Linked DNA regions of Homo sapiens. The protein of the gene in region 1 interacts with the protein of each later gene in a pairwise test. Each region holds a gene or a part of one and is shown on either strand. Other genes may lie near its edges.

Region 1 (7,029 bases):
TGTCAATTCCAGATGCCCAAATAAAATACAAAATCAAGCAAAACCACACATCGCAGCATTATCATGAGTTTAAGCTATTGAGTATATAACATCAGTTTGTGAGTTCAATTCTCCAAATCCTTTCCTTTAAAGTAATAAGTTTATTTCATCTTTATTAATGTCTTCATTACAATTAGCCTTCTACTAATAACAATACAGTTTAATTTAATATTTATGGAGTTCTGATTTATTTTTTCCTTTGCTTTTAAGTGTGCTAATCTTTGTGCACGTGAATTTTCTACCACATTGCAACAAGCAAGCTTTGGTTCAATTTTCTTGTCCTACACAAAGGAAGATTTTGAGTGCAGAATCTTAGCCACTAGGTCTTGCGTTGTCATTTTATTTTCCTCTCCTTGGGTGGATTTACTGGAAGGAAATGGGTAAATGGGAAGGAAGGGAAGGGGAAGGGATGAGAGAGGGAAGAAGGGGAGAGTTCTCAGCTATGTTGAATCTTGATTCACAACTTTGCCTCCATTCATGGTTGGTGTTCCAGAACTTTTCCTTGAACGCCCTTGTTTTTCTCCAATTTCATGTAGCGATGGTTCTCTGTACATACACACTGAAAGGCAAAATAACAAAAATTACTTATGACAGTGGACATAAATTTCCTTCAATAAGCTTTTCAAATTTGATTTTACAATATTCTTCACTCTCATCACAAGCTCTTCTTCTCATTATAAAAAAACAGTTTTAACTTGATAATCAGTGAATACACTTAATTTTCTTTCAGTTCTTTCAGTCACAACCTTTTAAACTTTTCTTGAACTGCAGACATTTAAGTAAGTTGTTTCTGTTCTCTCATAGATAAGGCTTGAATCTTTACAGTTTCCTAACCTAGAAAAGAGGATTTTCATCCAGAGTCAGAGGAGACATGGGAAATATTTCGCTTTTTGGTCCTTAGTCTGCAGTCTAATTCGGGTAGGTAAAAAAATATTCATTTACATGTTGCTAATCTTTACCCTACCATAGGAAATATAATGTATCAAACTGAAATATTTATTGCCATTTCCAGGGCATCCTATGTAAAAAAATAAGGGAGGACAGAGAAGAGGAAAAAAGATGAAGCAATTTCCCCGACTGCCCTACATTTAGCTAAAGTAAGAAACACAGTCCGTGACTTTGTAGTTTTTCATCAATAGGGAACGTGATTATGCAAGCATGAGACTTCAGTTCATATCTATATAAACCGTTCTTTTCTCCTCTATTGTATTGTCTGGCTGTAAAGTTCAGTCATCTGTGAGCCATCATGGCTATTCCTAGATAATTGTTTAGAAAGAACGATGTTTTCAAATTATTCAAGTTATTCTTACAAAACACGTTAATTCAGCTTCATTACACTCTTGTGAAATAGACAAATGTGACTAGATAAGAGTATATGATATGTCTCAGGTAAATATCAGGAGTTACTTTTATCCTCGGCTTAGGAACAAACAGGTATCTCCACCTATTAAACCATCATTACAAAGATTTGATAATTTGAATGTTACTTCCAACATCAAATAGCTTCCTCCCTTGAACTTTGAGTGGTTACCGATTTGCGAACCATGCTACCCGGATCCACACCCTGACTCAGCCATCTCCTAGCCTTGTTAATTTGGACACATTTTCATAAATGAAAAATTGCATATTTATGAAGATTAAATGCCTTGCATAGAGCAAGTACCAAAAAATGTTTATGAAAATTAAGGAGCTGATTTCTTTGTGAGCATTTTGAATAACAGATCTTCAGAGAATATAGAAATAAATTGTTTTGGCTGAAAGTATTCTAAATCCAAAACTAGACTAAAACAGAATTTAGAATACAAGTGAGAGTCTCCTGAGACTGGTTCAGTGATGAGGAGACAGATTTCTTCCAACATATTCTATTACAGAACTTCTTAAATGTTACCGTACATGGGAATCACCTAGGAATATTGTTAAAATGCAGATTATGAATCAGAAGGATTGTAGTGAGCTTGAGAGTCTCCATTTTAAATAGATCTCAGGTGATGTTGATGCTGATAAAACCCAGACTACACTCTGAGTAGCAGAAAATATATGAATAAAATATGTGTGTTAAGGCTGTTATGTAAATTAGCCACATATATTTTAATGAGATTTAAAAATATTTCAATTACTGCACGGATGGCTCTTCCAACATCCCCAAAGGACTAAATGCCCTTGGCTGAAGTAACAGAGTATACAGAGGAAACCAGCTCAGAGAGTAGATCATATAATTTTCAAATGACACAAGTAAGTCATTCAAGTTTGTCTTTCTTCTTCTTTTTTTGTTTCAACAAATAGAAGATCCTTAGGGAATATCTTGCCAGAATCTTGAAGTTCCCTAAGTCTAATGGTGCTTACCTCTCTTTCTATTATAAAAAAAATTAAAAACTCCAAAATTAAAGCATAGTTTTTTATTTGTGCAAAATACAACCATTTACATAAAACTGCTCAATGCACAGGGGAACGCAAGAAGCAACGAGGTGATTTAGCTGGAACACTATTCATATGATACCATAAAATAGTTCTTCCCAACTCTGTCACCTAATCAGCTGTGAAAACTTACACATCTGCAGGTCACCCCACAGATTGCTAAATCAGAATCTCAATGAATTTACAAAAATCTCCTTTTTCAAAAATAATATATTTTGACCTGCAAATCCTTAAGCTTCATCCAGGGATACTTGAGGAATAAATTTTCTAATTTTCATTAAAGTGTATATTTTTTTTTTTTTTTTGAGACGGAGTCTCGCTCTATAGCCCAGGCTGGAGTGCTTTGGTGCTATCTAGGCTCACTGCAAACTCCGCCTCCCGGGTTCATGCCATTCTCCTGTCTCAGCCTCCCAAGTAGCTGGGACTATAGGCACCAGCCACCACGCCTGGCTAATTTTTGTATTTTTAGCAGAGATGGGGTTTCACCGTGTTAGCCAGGATGGTCTCGATCTCCTAACCTCGTGATCCACCCGCCTCGACCTCCCAAAGTGCTGGGATTACAGGCATGAGCCATCGCGCCTGGCCTAAAGTGTATATTTTTATCACTTTTTAAGCTGAGTTTCTTAGAGTTGCAATTTCCTTTTTAGTTTTTTTATGCCACAGATTCTACCCAAAACATTCACTTGGACTTTTATCTTTTTTTTTGTTTTGTTTTCTATTTCTCACTTGCACATAAAATACTTCATTTGTGTCAACACACAATGTTACTGTTATAATTACTGCTGCAGATAACTTTTCCAGTAATTTAACCCTGCTGGCCATCCTTATATTGAGCGGTATTGCAAATTGACATCTGAAAATATACAGTGTTTCAAAAAGACCAAAAGTCACCAGTGCCACAGCAAGATGTAAAATTTGCTCTTTTTCTCATACAACTCATTTTCTAATTTCCCAATCTTTGCACTAAATGGAGTAATAAAATTAACGGTTTTGAAAACCTAGTTCATGTCCCAGTTAGAAAACGACAAGTAAAAGGTAGGTTTTCCAGTTCACTGATGAAAACTGCCCCCCTCCTCAATAAATCAAATAGGTATTTGAATTTCTATACTTCTGTTAACCAAAATAAAAAGATGTTCAGAGAAAGCAAACTAAAGTTATTCTAGAAACTGCATGCAAATACAAATACGGAGAGCAAAACCTTGGTCAAAGCAATAGATTAAATGTAATTTCTTGAGCATTAATTTTCATTGTTATTTACAGGACCTAGGATTCAGTAATATATCTAAGAAGCTGACAAATCAAGGGGAATAAGTCTCAATCAAATTTCTGAATTACAATATAATTTAAAGACCATAATCCAATTAGAAAGCAAAGAAAGAATAAAGTACCTCCCTTCAGTAATATAACTGCCTTACTACCATCCATAGTTGCATTAACGCTTAATGACTGCTATTCTGAATGTACATGGTAAATAATGAAACAAAATTAAGGAAGGAAACAAGGCGTAAGTGTTCTCTAAAGTGCATTATATGTGCAAAACGTAAACGAAAATCACCATGATGTATATAGCAGCCTCAATATCATTTCAGAGTATTCAAAGCAATTTTAAATTGATTAACTAAATTTTACAATTATAACCCAGTGAATATAGTAGGTGAGAAATTATCACCCCCATTTTTTTTAAATATAAAAGAAATTAAGCCACTTCCATAAAGTCAGAGAGTGAGTAGTGGCAGGGCCAGGATGAATATTTAGGGTTTCAAGGTCCTAGTTAAGAGTTTTGAATAAAATCAGAAATACCATAATTTATCCAACAAACAATGTAAAATGACTGACATATCAGTGTTTGAATTCTTATGTCTGTATGTTAATCAAGATTTAAGTTGGCCTTAACTTCACTAAATATTCCTAAAGTCATTCAGAAATGGTAATAAAAGAAAACATATGGCTGTTATAAACAAAATCAAAAAAGAAAGTAACAAGAGTTGGTGAGTATGTGGAGAAATTGAAACCCTATTCATTTCTACTTAAATGTAAAATGGCTCAGCCACCGTGGAAAATGAAATGGTGATTCCTCAAAAAATTAAATACGGATGTACCATATGATCCAGCAATTCCAACTGTAGGTGTACACTCAAAATAAATGAAAGCAGGGACCCCAGCATCTATCTGTACATCCATGTCCATAGAAGGATTATTCACTGTAGCCAAAAGATGGAAGCACCAAAATGTCCATTGACAAATGAATGGGTAAATATAATGTGGCCTATACATATAATGAAATATTATTCAGCCTAAAAAACAAAATTCTGACACATACTACAACATGAATGAACCTTGAAGAAATTCTGCTAGGTGAAATAAGCCAGTTACAAGGAGCCAAATATTGATTCCACTTATGTGAGATACCCAGAGTAGTCAAGTTCACAGAGGCAAAAAATAGAACTGTACTTGCCAGGGGCTGGGGAAGAATGGGGATTTCTTATTTAATGAGTACAGAGTTTCAGTTGGGGGAGATGAAAAAGTTCTGGAGTTGGATGATGGTGATGTTTGCACAACAATGTCAATGTACTTAACGGCAATGAAACATATACTTAAAAATGATTAAAATGGTAAATTTTGTATTATCATATTTTACCACAATTAAAAAGCAAACAAACAAACAACTTGTCCTGAATTGTCCTGAGTATAAGGTATAAGAAGTGACTATTAAAGCCAGAGGTGTTCCATTTGCATAGGAAGAGCCAGCAATTCCCCAATAATAAAAAACATTAGTTTTAGAACTGTATTAAGGAAGAGGGAGTTGAGATATAACTGAGGAGGTACAGGGCGAGGAAAAGGATAGAGAAATCTGATGAAAATATTCTAGGACTGTGCTGCCTAGTATAGCATCCATTTAGCCATATGTGGCCACTGAGCACGTACAATGTAGCTAGTCCTAATTCAGATGAGACATAAGTGCAAAAATAAACACTACAGGACTGGGTAAAATAGGGAGGTGATGACGAATAAGAAGGATAAGGCTAATTTGTGTCAGAGCTTGCTGAATTCCAGGCCAGAAAATTTAAACCGTGAACATCATATATATCAGGCTCAATATGATAGCAAGTGAAGAGTTAATATACTTAGTTAATTAAGTGATATGATAGCAAATGAAGAGTTAACGTCCATCCGACATGAGTGTATAAAGAAAAATCTATTAATTCCTTTATGTAGAAAAATGTCTAGGTTTACGTGATATGGATACAACTAGTCAGTATAGTCAAGAAAAATCATTCAAACTGAATCTCACTGAGTGAACTCTGTAAGGAATGACTGGCAGCATTTGAACCTTTTTTTTATTATTATACTTTAAGTTTTAGGGTACATGTGCACATTGTGCAGGTTAGATACATATGTATACATGTGCCATGCTGGTGCACTGCACCCACTAACTCGTCATCTAGCATTAGGTATATCTCCCAATGCTATCCCTCCCCCCTCCCCCCACCCCACAACAGTCCCCAGAGTGTGATATTCCCCTTCCTGTGTCCATGTGATCTCATTGTTCAATTCCCACCTATGAGTGAGAATATGCGGTGTTTGGTTTTTTGTTCTTGCGATAGTTTACTGAGAATGATGATTTCCAATTTCATCCATGTCCCTACAAAGGACATGAACTCATCATTTTTTATGGCTGCATAGTATTCCATGGTGTATATGTGCCACATTTTCTTAATCCAGTCTATCATTGTTGGACATTTGGGTTGGTTCCAAGTCTTTGCTATTGTGAATAATGCCGCAATAAACATATGTCTGCATGTGTCTTTATAGCAGCATGATTTATAGTCATTTGGGTATATACCCAGTAATGGGATGGCTGGGTCAAATGGTATTTCCAGTTCTAGATCCCTGAGGAATCGCCACACTGACTTCCACAATGGTTGAACTAGTTTACAGTCCCACCAACAGTGTAAAAGTGTTCCTATTTCTCCACGTCCTCTCCAGCACCTGTTGTCTCCTGACTTTTTAATGATTGCCATTCTAACTGGTGTGAGATGGTATCTCATAGTGGTTTTGATTTGCATTTCTCTGATGGCCAGTGATGATGAGCATTTTTTCATGTGTTTTTTGGCTGCATAAATGTCTTCTTTTGAGAAGTGTCTGTTCATGTCCTTCGCCCACTTTTTGATGGGGTTGTTTGTTTTTTTCTTGTAAATTTGTTTGAGTTCATTGTAGATTCTGGATATTAGCCCTTTGTCAGATGACTAGGTTGCGAAAATTTTCTCCCATTTTGTAGGTTGCCTGTTCACTCTGATGGTAGTTTCTTTTGCTGTGCAGAAGCTCTTTAGTTTAATTAGATCCCATTTGTCAATTTTGGCTTTTGTTGCCATTGCTTTTGGTGTTTTGGACATGAAGTCCTTGCCCATGCCTATGTCCTGAATGGTAATGCCTAGGTTTTCTTCTAGGGTTTTTATGGTTTTAGGTCTAACGTTTAAATCTTTAATCCATCTTGAATTGATTTTTGTATAAGGTGTAAGGAAGGGATCCAGTTTCAGCTTCCTACATATGGCTATCCAGTTTTCCCAGCACCAT
Region 2 (7,029 bases), on another chromosome or scaffold:
TCACCTCTTAATAGTGTCTTTGAGGAACAGAACTTTTCCATTTAATTATGTCTAATTAAACAATTCATTCTTTATGGTTAGTGCTTGTTTATCCTCATTAAAAACATCTTTGCCTATACTATAGTTGTGAAGACAGTATCTTAAGTGTTTACTAGATTGTCTATCCATCTTTAATAAAGTTTTGTGGAGTGGGAAGAAGTAAGAGTCAAGGTTTGTATTTTCCCTGCATTTATCAAGTGCATTTATTAAAAGCACTGTCTTTTCCACAATGATTTACAACTCTTCTGTATTTTGTATTTCCAGATTGTTTCTGGCCTCTGTGTCCTCTTCCCTTGGTGTATTTGCCTGTCATTGCTCCAGTACCACACTGTTTTAATTACTCTACCTTTATAGTAAATTTCATATATAGTAGTGCGTATCTACTAACTTAGTTCTTTTTCTTTAAAAAAAACTTTGTATTTTCCTTGGCTTAAAAAAAACTTGGCTTTTCCAAATCTTTAATTTGCATATACTTAAAAAATGATCTGCTTGTGAATTTTCAGAAAAACTTTTGTTAACATGGTGGAATTTTAAATATGATTGCTAGGATCATTCTGAGAGACTTGACAATAATGTCTTTTAATAATGTCTTTTAATAATGTCTTCCAGCCAGGCATGGTGGCTCACGCCTGTAATCCCAGCACTGTGGGAGGCCGAGGTGGGCAGATCACTTGCAGCCAGGAGTTTGAGACCAGTGTGGCTAACATAGTGAAACCCCGTCTCTACTAAAAATACAAAAATTAGCCAGGCGTTGTGGCAGGCGCCTGTAATCTCAGCTACTCGGGAGGCTGAGGCAGGAGAATTGCTTGAACTCAGGAGGTGGAGGTTGCAGTGAGCAGAGACTGTGCCACTCTACTCCAGCCTGGGCGACAGAGGGAGGCTCCGACTCAAAAAAAAAAATGATGTCTTCCATTGCATGGAAAGAATATTTTTCTCCATTTACTGCAGTCTTGAATTTCTCTGAGTGATGTTTTATAATTTTTGTGTAGTGCTGTACCACATCTTGATTAAATTTATTCCTAAATATTTGATGTTTTTGGTACTGTTTTTAATGACATTTGAAATCTCATATTCTAATTATTTGTTGCTATTAATTATACAGAAATGCCATTGGTTTTCATTATATCTAGTAAGTTGACTAAATTTGCTTATTAACTGTAATGATTTTATTCTTCTGCATTTTTCTATGTACAGAACAATGTCATCTGTGAATGACAGTTTTATTTCTTTCCAAATTTTAAACCTATTGTATTTTCCTGATGCTACAGCACTTTTTAGAACCTCCAATAGATTGTTGAATGGATAGTGGACATCTTTGTCTTGTTTTCAAACTCAGGGAGAAAATACTGATACGTCACTATGAAGTATGGCATTTAAAAATTTTTTGTACATATGCTAACCAGAATAGGAAACTTGCCCTTTTTCCTAAGTTGGTGATAGTTTTTATCACGAATGGACTTTAAACATTGACCATGTATGAAAATGATCATGTGGTGTTTCCCTGTTTGTTGCTGTTGTTGTTGTTGTTAATGTGGTGCATTACATTTATCGATTATCAAATGTTAAATCAATGTTGCCTTTCTGCAATATACTCCACCATGATGTATGTCCTTTTTAAGTACTATTGCATTTTATTTGCTCACCCTTAGTTTGGAATTTTTGTGTCTAAGTTCAGGGGTGATATTGGCTTGTATTTTTGGCTTGATCTTGTAGTTTTTCATTCTTCTAAATTCCTTGTCAGATGTTGTTATCAGTTTTGTATCAATCTTCTAATAAGAGTTCCTAATAAGGGTTAATACAGATTGGTTTATACATCTATTTGAATATATAAGTATAAATACTTATATATTAAATACATATTTTGCATAATATAATGTATAATATATAGTTTAAAATATAATGTTTAACAAGGGTTAATACAGATTGGTTTATACAGCTATTTTTCCTAATAAGGGTTAATACAGATTGGCTTATACATCTTCAAATAGGTAATAATATTTTTATCTATTTTTGGTTGATGACAGCTGCTTATTCCACAAGCATTCTGATTGATTTGGTTATACCATCTTTCTTCTGTTTTACTTTGTGTACATTAAAATTAGGTTTCTTTTCCTGAGAACAGAGTGTTTGTTGAGACTTGGTAAATCTTGGCTCATGATTAAAAGTGAAATTAATGATTCAAAGTCTTGGTTGTATACACATATGCAGATTGCTTGCCATTTTGTGATTGTTAGATTTTTGTCATGAATAGAATATATTCATTGATGTTTTTCAGGAAACAATGACCGATAAAACAGAGAAGGTGGCTGTAGATCCTGAAACTGTGTTTAAACGTCCCAGGGAATGTGACAGTCCTTCGTATCAGAAAAGGCAGAGGATGGCCCTGTTGGCAAGGAAACAAGGAGCAGGAGACAGCCTTATTGCAGGCTCTGCCATGTCCAAAGCAAAGAGTAAGTAAGCCTGTCCTCACGTCCTCCTCATGCTCCTGCCTCATCCCCTCCAGAGAAACTGTCCTTGTCAAGGTTAACAGTTTCGGCTGACATTGCCATTAACTTCTCAGCAGCATTTGACAGTTGTTCACTCGCTTCTTCATGAAAACCTTCTAGGATTTCCATTTCCGACAATCTTTTTTTTTTTTAATTTCTTGTCCGTATTGGTGAATCCCTATCATTTTTTTCTTGAGATGGACTTTCGCTCTTCTCAGCCAGGCTGGAGTGCAGTGGCGCGATCTCGGCTCACTGAAATCTCCGTCTCCTGGGTTCAAGTGATTCTTCTGCCGCAGCCTCCCGAGTAGCGGGATTACAAGCACCAGCCACCACACCCAGCTAATTTTTGTAAGTTTAGTAGAGATGGGGTTTCGCCATGTCGGCCAGGCTGGTCTGGAACTCCCCCCCTCAGGTGATCCACCCACCTCAGCCTCCCAAAGTGCTGGGATTACACGCACGAGCCACCGCCCCCGACCCCATCATTGTTTTTTTCTACATTTCTTTTTCTTCTCTTCTCTAAATACTGCAAAAAATTCCTGAACCCCAGCATCTCTCTCTCTCCTTCTATTCCACTCTGCCACGATCAATCACTGAGCTCCTGAGATACCTCCATGTTTCCCATTATTTCCCGCATCAAACACATACCCTCCAACCCTGCAGCCGGGTCATGATGTTGGCATGTAAATCACGTGATGCCATGTCGCTCCTGAACACCCATCCTCAACACTCCTAAGCACTCAGAACCGACTGCGAAGCAGCTTTGGTCTGTGAGGTTCTGCGTGGCCTGGCCTCCGTCACCCTCTCCTCACACGGGCCCCATCATCTCCTGACTCTCTCTGCTACTGTCCTTCACCCCGTAGTGCCCGGTCCATCCCCACTCCAGCCCATATCCTTGGCCTCACCGCAACCTGGAACTCCCCCTCTGCCTCTGCGCAGGCAGCTCTGCTTTCTCCTTCAAGCCCTGCCCAAGGGTACCTCCACAGAAGGCTCTGCCCAACCAGCAGCAGCTCCTGGGGCTCCCTCTGCTGCTGTTGCCCACAGGCCTGTGGACTGCTTCCTTACCACTAGCCCAACACTGTATGTTTCATTTGCTCATTGTGCACGTACTGTCTGACCGCCCCATGAGGATGTGAGCTCCAGAAGGGCAGGGAACGTTGCTCTCTGGGCTGTTTACTGCTGATCCCCAGCTACCGGCACGCTGCCTGCCACAGACGATGAATAAATGAGAGGTGTCAGACCTGGAGTGAAAAGAAAGTCACTTTTGTGAGACAGAAAGGAAGGATGAGGAAAATCATACACTAAAAGGGATTTTTTGTTGATGGAGTACATGTAGAACTTTCAGCAGTAATGGCCACCTCTATTTTCTCAGAATATGTTTGATGTAGAGAGGAGGCTGGTTGAGGTGTGTCCAAGTTGTCTGGCTTCCAGCTTAGTAAAACATGGCAGTTTGTAAGTGAATTTGAGAAATCATGATATCAAGTGAGACTTGCTGCTTTCAACTTGTAAAGCATAACAAGCTGAAACTGTCCCATGAGTACCAGGGATCTGTGAATGTTGCTTTAGAGTTGTACTGCCTTACTTGGTTTCCATGTCTATTCATAGGGCCAGAAAATAAGAGGTGGTTTTATTGTATTATGTGTCCTGGCCTCCGTTTGTCAGGCCTGGGATTTCTCCCTGGTGTATCCTCCCATTTATGAAATAAATAATTCCCTAGAAACTGAGGAGCACATAGATGTACCCAGAGGGGTGATGAAACACACATATCTCACAGCTCAGCTTCTCAGTTTGATTTCCAGAGCTGTCATTCATGAGGTCTATGTGGAGGGGAAAGAAAGTGGTCAAACACCAACTGATGGCTTTTACTCAAAATCTGTTTCACCAGAGCTTATGACAGGACATGCTATTCCACCCAGCCAATTGGATTCTCAGATTGATGACTTCACTGGTTTCAGCAAAGATAGGATGATGCAGAAACCTGGTAGCAATGCACCTGTGGGAGGAAACGTTACCAGCAGTTTCTCTGGAGATGACCTAGAATGCAGAGAAACAGCCTCCTCTCCCAAAAGCCAACGAGAAATTAATGCTGATATAAAACGTAAATTAGTGAAGGAACTCCGATGCGTTGGACAAAGTAAGTAATATAAGAATGTCTGTTTTATAAAACTATAGGAAGTCTCTCTTTCTATGATTCAGAAGATATTCATGTTGCCTGTTGAGTTTCATTCTTTGCCAGAGTTGAGATTGCACATAATTTATGGTGGTTCCTCTTTTCTTTGACTAAAGCATGTACATTTTTTCTTTTTCTTTTCTTACTTGGTTATGGTTAAAGGAGTTACATTCGTATGTATGTGCAGGTGTCTTTTTTATTATTTAGGTTTTGTATGTGCAGGTATCTTGATTTAAGCATTTAAAACATTTCAGCCTCTGAAGCATGATTGCTGAGGTGTAGATTCACTTCTATTCTTCTTTATATTTGATAATACTGAAGTTTTTTTTTTTTCAACATCTTCAGAATATGAAAAAATCTTCGAAATGCTTGAAGGAGTGCAAGGACCTACTGCAGTCAGGAAGCGATTTTTTGAATCCATCATCAAGGAAGCAGCAAGGTGGGTAGAAATAGGAACTGTCCAATTTCTTTAAGCACTTGGGCTCAATAGAGCACTGGGGGTGAGCGTTGGGGAACAGCCCCTGCCTTGCGTTTCTCAAACCCTGGTCCTCACTCACAGTTACGGCTGTCTCCACAGTTACTTAGGCTAATGTTATCTGAGTGTAACTCATTCTTCGAAGACTATGGAGACTTCCATTTTCACCATAGTCTGAGGTGCGCATTGTCCCTCAATTGACACTCTTTGTATTTGCTAGACTACCTCTTTTTAAAAAATTTGTGTAGGCACATAGCAGATGCATATATTTCTGGGCTATATGAGATATTGTGATACAGACAACAATGTGTAATAATCACATCAAGGTAAGTGGGGTTTCTATCACCTCAAGCTTTTATCCTTTGCGTTACAGAGAATACAATTATACTCTTCATTATTTTTAAATGTGCAATTAAATTATTACCGACTATAGTCACCCTGTTTGGCTATGAAATACGACATCTTATTTATTCCATACTTCTACGTATTAATCATCCCCACTTCCCACACCCTCCACCCCCACTAACCTTTGTAGCCTCTGGTAACTGTCATTCTACTCTCTATCTCCATTAGTTCAGTTGTTTTACACTTTTACTCCCAAAAATAAGTGAGAACATGTGAAGTTTGTCTTTCTGTGCCTGGCTTATTTCACTTAACATAAGGACCTTCGGTTCTATCCGTGTTGTTGCAAATGACTGAATCTCATTCTTTTTTTTATGGCTAAACAGTACTCTGTGGTGTATATGTACCATATTTTCTTTACCCATTCATGTGTTAGTGGACACTTAGGTTGCTTCCAAATCTTGGCTACTGTGGATGGTGCTGCAACAAACATGGGAGTGCAGATATCTGTTCGGTACACTGACTTCCTTTCTCTTGGGTATATACCCAGCAGTGGGATTGCTGGATCATATGATAGCTCCATTTTTAGTTGTTTGAGGAACCTCCAAACTGTTCTTCATAGTTAGTTGTTGTAGTAATTTATATTCTCACCAACAGTGTATGAAGGTTCCCTTTTCTCCACACCCTTGCCAGCATTTGTTATGCCGGCTAGACTGCCTCTTACCATGCAGATACATTTCTATTTCCATGCTGACTGTTACTTCATCTTTCTATCTGTCACAGCGCTTCCTACAGCATAGGTTCTTTGGCTATCTTTTGGTTAATGACATGTCTCTTTCTTTTCAGATGTATGAGACGAGACTTTGTTAAGCACCTTAAGAAGAAACTGAAACGTATGATTTGAGAATACTTGTCCCTGGAGGATTATCACACCCCAAATGCATAATCTCGTTAATGATTGAGGAGAGAAAAGGATCAGATTGCTGTTTTCTACAATGGAGCAGGATATTGCTGAAGTCTCCTGGCATATGTTACCGAATCAAATAGCCTTCCAGAGGCTAAGAAATTTCTGTTAGTAAAAGATGTTCTTTTTCCCAAAGCATTTTATTTGAAAGGATAACTTGTGTTTTGGTTATTTTGTATTCCCACCTGTGCTGGTAGATATTATTAACCCATTAGGTAAATACTATTACAGTCGTGGTTTCTGCAGCAGCTCACAGTGTTGTAGCTGGTATTTATCACTACGTTCTTTCGCTACCCATTTCACATTCCCTTTGCCCTGAGATAGCATGTCAGTTGGTCATGATGCTTGGCCTGGCAGGATGACTCAAACCTTCATTACGGAAGAGTCTGAACCATTAGATGTCCTGCCTGGATGGGGTTGCTGTGATCTTCCATTAACTCTAATCGAAAAACACGGGAGGACTAAGAAGCTCTCTAGACATATCACACATACTCTTCCTTAGCCCCTGGTGTAGTGGGAACCCGATCTCAATGTTGAAATCTGTATCATCAGCCTT
Region 3 (7,029 bases), on another chromosome or scaffold:
AGTATATAACTATGTCCTGGAGATGTGTTTATAAATTGCTCACTCTAGCTTTCTCTCTTGTTCTTTTGACAGAGTTAAATTAGAAGAGAGAGGAGTTGCTGAGAATTCTGTAGTCATCAGTAATGGTGACATTAATTTATCTCTTAGAAAAGCAAAGAAGCGGGCATTTCAGTTAGAGGAGGGTGAAGAAACTGAACCAGATTGCAAATATTCAAAGAAGCATTGGAAGAGTCGAGAGAACAATAACAATAATGAGAAGGTCTTGGATCTGGAACCAAAAGCTGTCACAGATCAGACTGTCAGCAAAAAAAACAAGAGAAAAAATAAAGCAACCTGTGGCACAGTGGGTGATGATAACGAAGAGGCCAAAAGAAAATCACCAAAGAAAAAGGAGAAATGTGAATATAAAAAAAAGGCTAAGAATCCCAAGTCTCCGAAAGTACAGGCAGTGAAAGACTGGGCCAATCAGAGATGTAGTTCTCCAAAAGGTTCTGCTAGAAACAGCCTTGTTAAAGCCAAAAGGAAAGGTAGTGTAAGCGTTTGCTCAAAAGAGAGTCCCAGTTCCTCCTCGGAGTCTGAATCTTGTGATGAATCTATCAGTGATGGTCCCAGCAAAGTCACTTTGGAGGCCAGAAATTCCTCAGAGAAATTACCAACTGAGTTATCAAAGGAAGAACCCTCTACCAAAAATACAACTGCAGACAAACTGGCTATAAAACTTGGCTTTAGCCTTACCCCCAGCAAGGGCAAGACCTCTGGAACAACATCTTCCAGTTCAGACTCTAGTGCAGAGTCAGACGACCAATGCTTGATGTCATCGAGCACCCCGGAGTGTGCTGCGGGTTTCTTAAAGACAGTAGGCCTTTTTGCAGGAAGAGGTCGTCCAGGCCCAGGGCTGTCATCACAGACTGCAGGTGCTGCTGGATGGAGGCGTTCTGGCTCAAATGGTGGTGGACAGGCTCCTGGTGCTTCTCCCAGTGTGTCTCTCCCTGCTAGTTTAGGAAGAGGATGGGGTAGAGAAGAGAACCTTTTTTCTTGGAAGGGAGCTAAGGGACGGGGCATGCGGGGGAGAGGTCGAGGACGAGGGCATCCTGTTTCCTGTGTTGTAAATAGAAGCACTGACAACCAGAGGCAACAGCAATTAAATGACGTGGTAAAAAATTCATCTACTATTATCCAGGTAAGTATTATTTTTTGTAAGTTATCTCCTCCCTTTCCCCTTAGAATGTGTGTGGAGTTCATGTCATGGATTCACATTTTCTCACCAGTGATGATGTCACATGACTAACACTGTTTTTCAGAATCCAGTAGAGACACCCAAGAAGGACTATAGTCTGTTACCACTGTTAGCAGCTGCCCCTCAAGTTGGAGAAAAGATTGCATTTAAGGTATATTTCAAAAGAACAGTCACAGCAAAAAAGGTTCATTCCCCTTCCAAATAAACTTACTTAGAAAATCAGGTTAAATGTGTTTGTAAAAGCCCTTCCCACTGGAACCCCAGTGTTGTTACGGGTTCCTGGTAGGGCTCCCAGACTGGTCGGGGTGGACACGCCAACATGGCATGATGGAGGAGCTGTGGGAATGGGAGAGGATAAGAGGGCTTATGTATTTGTGGGTTTTTTCTTCTTTTTTAGCTTTTGGAGCTAACATCCAGTTACTCTCCTGATGTCTCTGACTACAAGGTAAGGATGTTTATTTAAAAGTAAGTTGTCAGTGTATTATTAAAACTAAAGTCATATTTAATACTACTTGTATGGATAATACAGATTTGTTTTTTTACTAAATAAAAATGCCAGAAAGTAGAAAATGAAAACATTAATCGAAATGTCAACTCTTTAATAGTATCACTGGGAAGTCTCCCTGTGTTATTTGCCTTATACTTGGGAAGAATAGAGTAGGAGAATGATGAGCTTAATTTTTACTTTTTTAAAAAAAATATATTAATTTTTTGTTTTTAAATAGCGACAGGATCTTGCTATGTTGCCCAGGTTGGTCTCAAACTCCTTGGCTCAAGCAATCCCCCCATCTTGGCTTCCCAAAGTGTTGGGATTACAGGTGTGAGCCACTATGCCCAGCCAGTTTAATTTTTTTAGTTACTTTTTTCTAATTAGTTTAGACCAACTTATTTGGGTATTCATTCCTTCATGATTCTAAACTTTGAAAGAAAATAATAAATAGTTCTCAGCAAGAAGATTTGATTATTTTCATCATGGGAATCTATTTTACATATTTGTGAATTACTTCTGGTTGTTATGATCTAGTATGATTTCTTCTGCATTATCAGGTAACCACAGGTAATTCATAAATATTATCCGTGGAATTTACTTACTTAATATCTGTATGAGTCTTTATATTGGCATGTGAGGTTTTTCATAGTTCAGTAAAAGCTTGACTCAGTCAGAGGGATCACAGAATTACATGTTTCTTTTTCACCCACCAACATTTTGTTGAAAATCTTGTTAAAGTGCATTCTTTCTTTTTTTTGATGTACTATATGGAATGTAAGACCATTTTTTAAGGTAATAATTGGTAGTGTTAATATAGTAACATAGATAAAATACAAGGGAATTTGATTTAATCTGGATTGATGCCTTGGAAGACTTAAAATCTTTATAGAAACCTTTCCTCAAGGCTGGGCTTGGTGGCTCCCACCTGTAATCCCAGCACTTTGGGAGGCCAAGGTGGGTGGATCACGAGATCAGGAGATTGAGACCATCCTGGCTAACACAGTGAAACCCCGTCTCTAGTAAAAATACAAAAAAAAAAATTAGCGGGGCATGGTGGCGGGTGCCTGTAGTCCCAGCTACTCAGGAGGCTGAGGCAGGAGAATGGCGTGAACCCGGGAGGCAGAGCTTGCAGTTAGCTGAGATCACACCACTGCACTCCAGCCTGGGTAACAGAGCGAGACTCCATCTCAAAAAAAAAAAAAAAAAAAATCTTTCCTCAAAAGCAGGCTGGAAGAATCAGTTAATGAAGGGATCTGGTGGGTTAGTTCTAGGTCGTTGGTGTTTTGTTTTTTATCTTCTTAGGCACTTACTATCTCCTATGGATGAGGTGATCATGTAATTTATCACCTGAATCAGGATACTTGTGAGTCAAAGGGATGCTATTAATAGTTATGCTGGAAAGATGTACAGACCTGTCTTGAACAAACCAGGGTGTTTTGTCACCCTACCATAGAAAACATTTAATTGTGTGATATATGAGGAAATGGAAATGAATATTGTATTGATACATCCCACAACCTCTATAAATTGTAATTCTAGATGATACTGATTTTTAAAAATTGCTTATTAATGGCCAGGCACAGTGGCTCATGCCTGTAATCCCAGCACTTTGGGAGGCCAAGGTAGGTGAATCACTTGAGGTCAGGAGTTCGAGACCAGCCTGGCCAACATGGCAAAACCCCATCTCTACTAAAAATATAAAAATGAGCCTGGCATGGTGGCGTGCACCTGTAGCCCCAGCTACTCAGGAGACTGAGGCACAAGAATCACTTGAACGCAGTAGGTGGGGGTTGCAGTGAGCTGAGATCATGCCACTGCACTCCAGCCTGGGTGACAAAACGAGACTCTTAAAAAAAATTGCATATTAAATTGGTATTAGTTGTCATAGTTATTAATGTTGGAAGGTGTTTTGCCTACTTTAGTTGGCAAAATTTTTTGAAGATTTTTGAAATTGCTTTCAAAAACATTTTAAGAATGAAAATTGGTCCTACTTTTTTGCTTTGACCTCAAACGCAGTTATCCAGCTTGATCATCTGCTTTATTCATTAACCTTGTCTCCAAAAATTAAATTGGTTCAATTCTGTACTAAAAAATGTAGTCTCCCAAGCCCCTGATTCCCTGTTGAGTCTGGTTTTAAAAAAAACTGTTGACTGTGCTCAGAAATTCCAGGTAGAGGCAGGAGGAACTGGTTGCTTGGCCTCTCAGTATATACCCCCGGAGGCTACCATGTGTCTCCCCATCGCCCACGTGCATGGGCAGTGCATCCTCTTGATGCATTAGAAAATCAGCTCCCACAGCTGGAGACCTGGGAGAAGGAGAATTGGGATCTTAACAGTGATAAAGTGCCTTCTGGTTTCTCCTGGGGGGTTGTGATCACTGTTTTAGAAGGGTTCTAAAAGCATCAGGAACCGAGGCTGCACCATTAGGATATATCTAGTCTCTCCTGATGAATGCTGTGATGGTCAGTGCTCACTTGAATATATCAGCCTGGTGTGATTTTTTTCTCCTTTTCCCTTATTCAGTCACTTTTGGTTCCCTGGTGTAATCTTTACTTTCATCGAGTTATTTAAGATAGTGTCTGCCATTTATGATTTAAATGTTTTATTTTGCCTCTAAAGATATTTCTGTATATTCACATAAAGTGTTTATCAGTCCACCTGTTTTTATTTTCTCTATATGTGGATTTATTTCTAAATTTTTCAACTGAGATAAAATTCACATAACATAAAATTCAACATTTTAACCATTTTAAAGTCTACAATTCAGTGGTTTTTAGTATATTCACAGTGTTTTACATGTTGATTTTGACTTGGACTTTTATTTTTGAAAGGAAGGAAGAATATTAAGCCACAATCCAGAGACCCAGCAAGTAGATATAGAAATTCTTTCATCCTTACCTGGTGAGTCTTTTAGAAAATAATTTGAAAATGTAGGCTCTATCTACAGTGGTTTATAAATAGCTTTTATACACAGGAGATGTTCTCTTCCTTGGCCTCCATATAACTGGCGCTCCCCACTTCTTTCAGCACACTTTAGCCCTGGGGGCTCATAAGAGATGTTGGATATATTCCAAAGCTGTTGGGCTAGTTCTTATTACTGTAATTATATAATTTCATAAAAGATTATATGAACTGATGAAAATCGATTATAAAAAGAATTATTCCTAGGAAGCCTAAGTTGAATGCTGACTCAGGAAATGCTATGAAATTATGGATGAGTGGGTCAGCTATAAAAGATTGGGAGGAATTTTGTAAAAACTGAGGAAGATTCTGCACTTAGATTGCCTTGCAAATTTTTGCAATCTTGCCTTATTTAAGAAAAACCCAGGCTGGGCACGGTGGCTCACACCTGTAATCCCTGCACTTTGGGAGGCCAAGGTTGGTGGATCACTTGAGGTCAGGAGTTTGAGACCATCCTGGCCAACATGGTGAAACCCTGTCTCTACTAAAAATACAAAAATTAGCCGGGCGTCATGGCACACGCCTGTAATCCCACCTACTGGAAAGGTTGAGGCAGGAGAATCGCTTGAACCCGGGAGGTGGAGGTTGCAGTGAGCCGAGATAGTGCAACTGCCTTCCAGACTGAGTGACAGAGCAAGACTTAGTCTCAAAAAATATTTTAAAAACCCCCAAACTGTAAATTGTGGAAATTGCAGACAATACAATGGTATGGTTTATTAAAAAAAGAGCTCTATTCAGTGAACTCATAAGACCTACTCAGCTCTATTTCAAAAGATTGTCAAATGAATATACTTTTGTATATTAAGTCAAAACAAAATGTCTGAAGTGTGTGTATACATACACTTTCACATATCATTTTAAATGGTTGCTGGATTTATCTCTGATGAACCCCACCTGGTACTGGAACTGAATGCGTGGAATAAGAGGGCTTTTATAATATGTAGCTTAACTTGGGGTGTACTGTAGGGGTCCCTGGCCAGAGGGCAGGGGAGATTCCTTTTCCTTTAGAAGATCCTAAAGCAATTAATTGTTTTCCTTTTTTTTTTGACAGAGTCTCACTCTATCGCCCAGGCTGGAGTGTGGTGGCACAATCTTGGCTCACTGCAGCCTCCGCCTCCCAGGTTCAAGTGATTCTCATGCCTCAGCTTGCAGAGTAGTTGGGACTACAGGCACACACCACCATGTCCAGCTAATTTTTGTATTTTTAGTAGAGATGGATTTTGACATGTTGGCCAGGTTGGTCTTGAATTCTTGGCCTCAAGCAATCCACCTGCCTTGGCCTCCCAAAGTGCTGAGACTACAGGTGTGAGCCACTGTGCCCAGCCTGTTTTCTGTTTGTTTGTTTGTTTGTTTGTTTGTTTATTTTTGAGACGGAGTGTTGCTGTCGCCCAGGCTGGAGTGCAGTGGCGCTATCTTGGCTCACTGCAAGCTCTGCCTCCCAGGTTCGCACCATCCTCCTGCCTCAGCCTCCCGAGTAGCTGGAACTACAGGCGCTGGCCGCCATGCCCGGCTAATTTTTTGTATTTTTAGTAGAGACGGGGTTTTACCATGTTAGCCAGGATGGTCTCGATCTCCTGACCTCGTGATCCACCCACCTTGGCCTCCCAAAGTGTTGAGGTTACAGGCATGAACCACCGCACCTGGCCTTCTGTTTATTTTTAGATAAGGGATTGAATAAAAGATTCAGCTAACAGAAATCAGTCGAAAGAGTTTTTGAACAAAGTTCGTTTATGATATTAAGTAAATGTTTATATATAACTTACACTGGGTTCCTACCTTTCTTTTTTTTTTGAGATGGAGTCTCACTCTGTTGTCCAGGCTGGAGTGCAGTGGGCGATCTCGGCTCAGTGCAAGCTCCGCCTCCCGGGTTCACGCCATTCTCCTGCCTCAGCCTCCCGAGCAGCTGGGACTACAGGCACCCGCCACCACACCTGGCTAATTTTTTGTATTTTTAGTAGAGATGGGGTTTCACTGTGTTAGCCAGGACGGTCTCGATCTCCTGACCTCGTGATCCTCCCACCTCAGCCTCCCAAAGTGCTGGGATTACAGGCATGAGCCACCGTGCCTGGCCAGGTTTCCAACCTTTCTTCTGATGAGATTTCATTTATAGAAATCCCCTTTCTTAGGAACGGTGGACAGAAAAGTTTGTCCACTGTCAAATTCTGTGCATACAGCCTGATCAGTGCTTGTCAGGTGATTAATAGTGATGACATCCACTTAGAACTTTTCTTCTTTAGGGCATCAAGAAATGGCTTCGGGGGCGAAGGTGGGAGGATCACTTGAGCCCAGGAGTTCAAGACCAGCCTGGGCAGCATAGTGAGACTCTGTCGTAAAAAAAAAAA

What was found.
Region 2: the proteins of FGF12 (region 1) and CT45A1 interact in binary tests that used the Homo sapiens proteins (3 or more experiments, as listed by UniProt).
Region 3: the proteins of FGF12 (region 1) and COIL interact in binary tests that used the Homo sapiens proteins (3 or more experiments, as listed by UniProt).

What each region holds. Positions count from the first base shown.
Region 1 is NC_000003.12:192,143,530-192,150,558, forward strand, and holds part of FGF12 (fibroblast growth factor 12), read right to left. Parts: intron 599-7,029; coding exon 480-598; 3' UTR 1-479. UniProt on the Homo sapiens protein: Involved in nervous system development and function. Involved in the positive regulation of voltage-gated sodium channel activity. Promotes neuronal excitability by elevating the voltage dependence of neuronal sodium channel SCN8A fast inactivation.
Region 2 is NC_000023.11:135,716,621-135,723,649, forward strand, and holds the end of CT45A1 (cancer/testis antigen family 45 member A1), read left to right. Parts: intron 1-2,314; 5' UTR 2,315-2,320; coding exon 2,321-2,489; intron 2,490-4,407; coding exon 4,408-4,656; intron 4,657-5,037; coding exon 5,038-5,131; intron 5,132-6,355; coding exon 6,356-6,413; 3' UTR 6,414-6,608; downstream 6,609-7,029.
Region 3 is NC_000017.11:56,944,040-56,951,068, reverse strand, and holds part of COIL (coilin), read left to right. Parts: intron 1-72; coding exon 73-1,180; intron 1,181-1,301; coding exon 1,302-1,388; intron 1,389-1,634; coding exon 1,635-1,682; intron 1,683-4,557; coding exon 4,558-4,627; intron 4,628-7,029. UniProt on the Homo sapiens protein: Component of nuclear coiled bodies, also known as Cajal bodies or CBs, which are involved in the modification and assembly of nucleoplasmic snRNPs.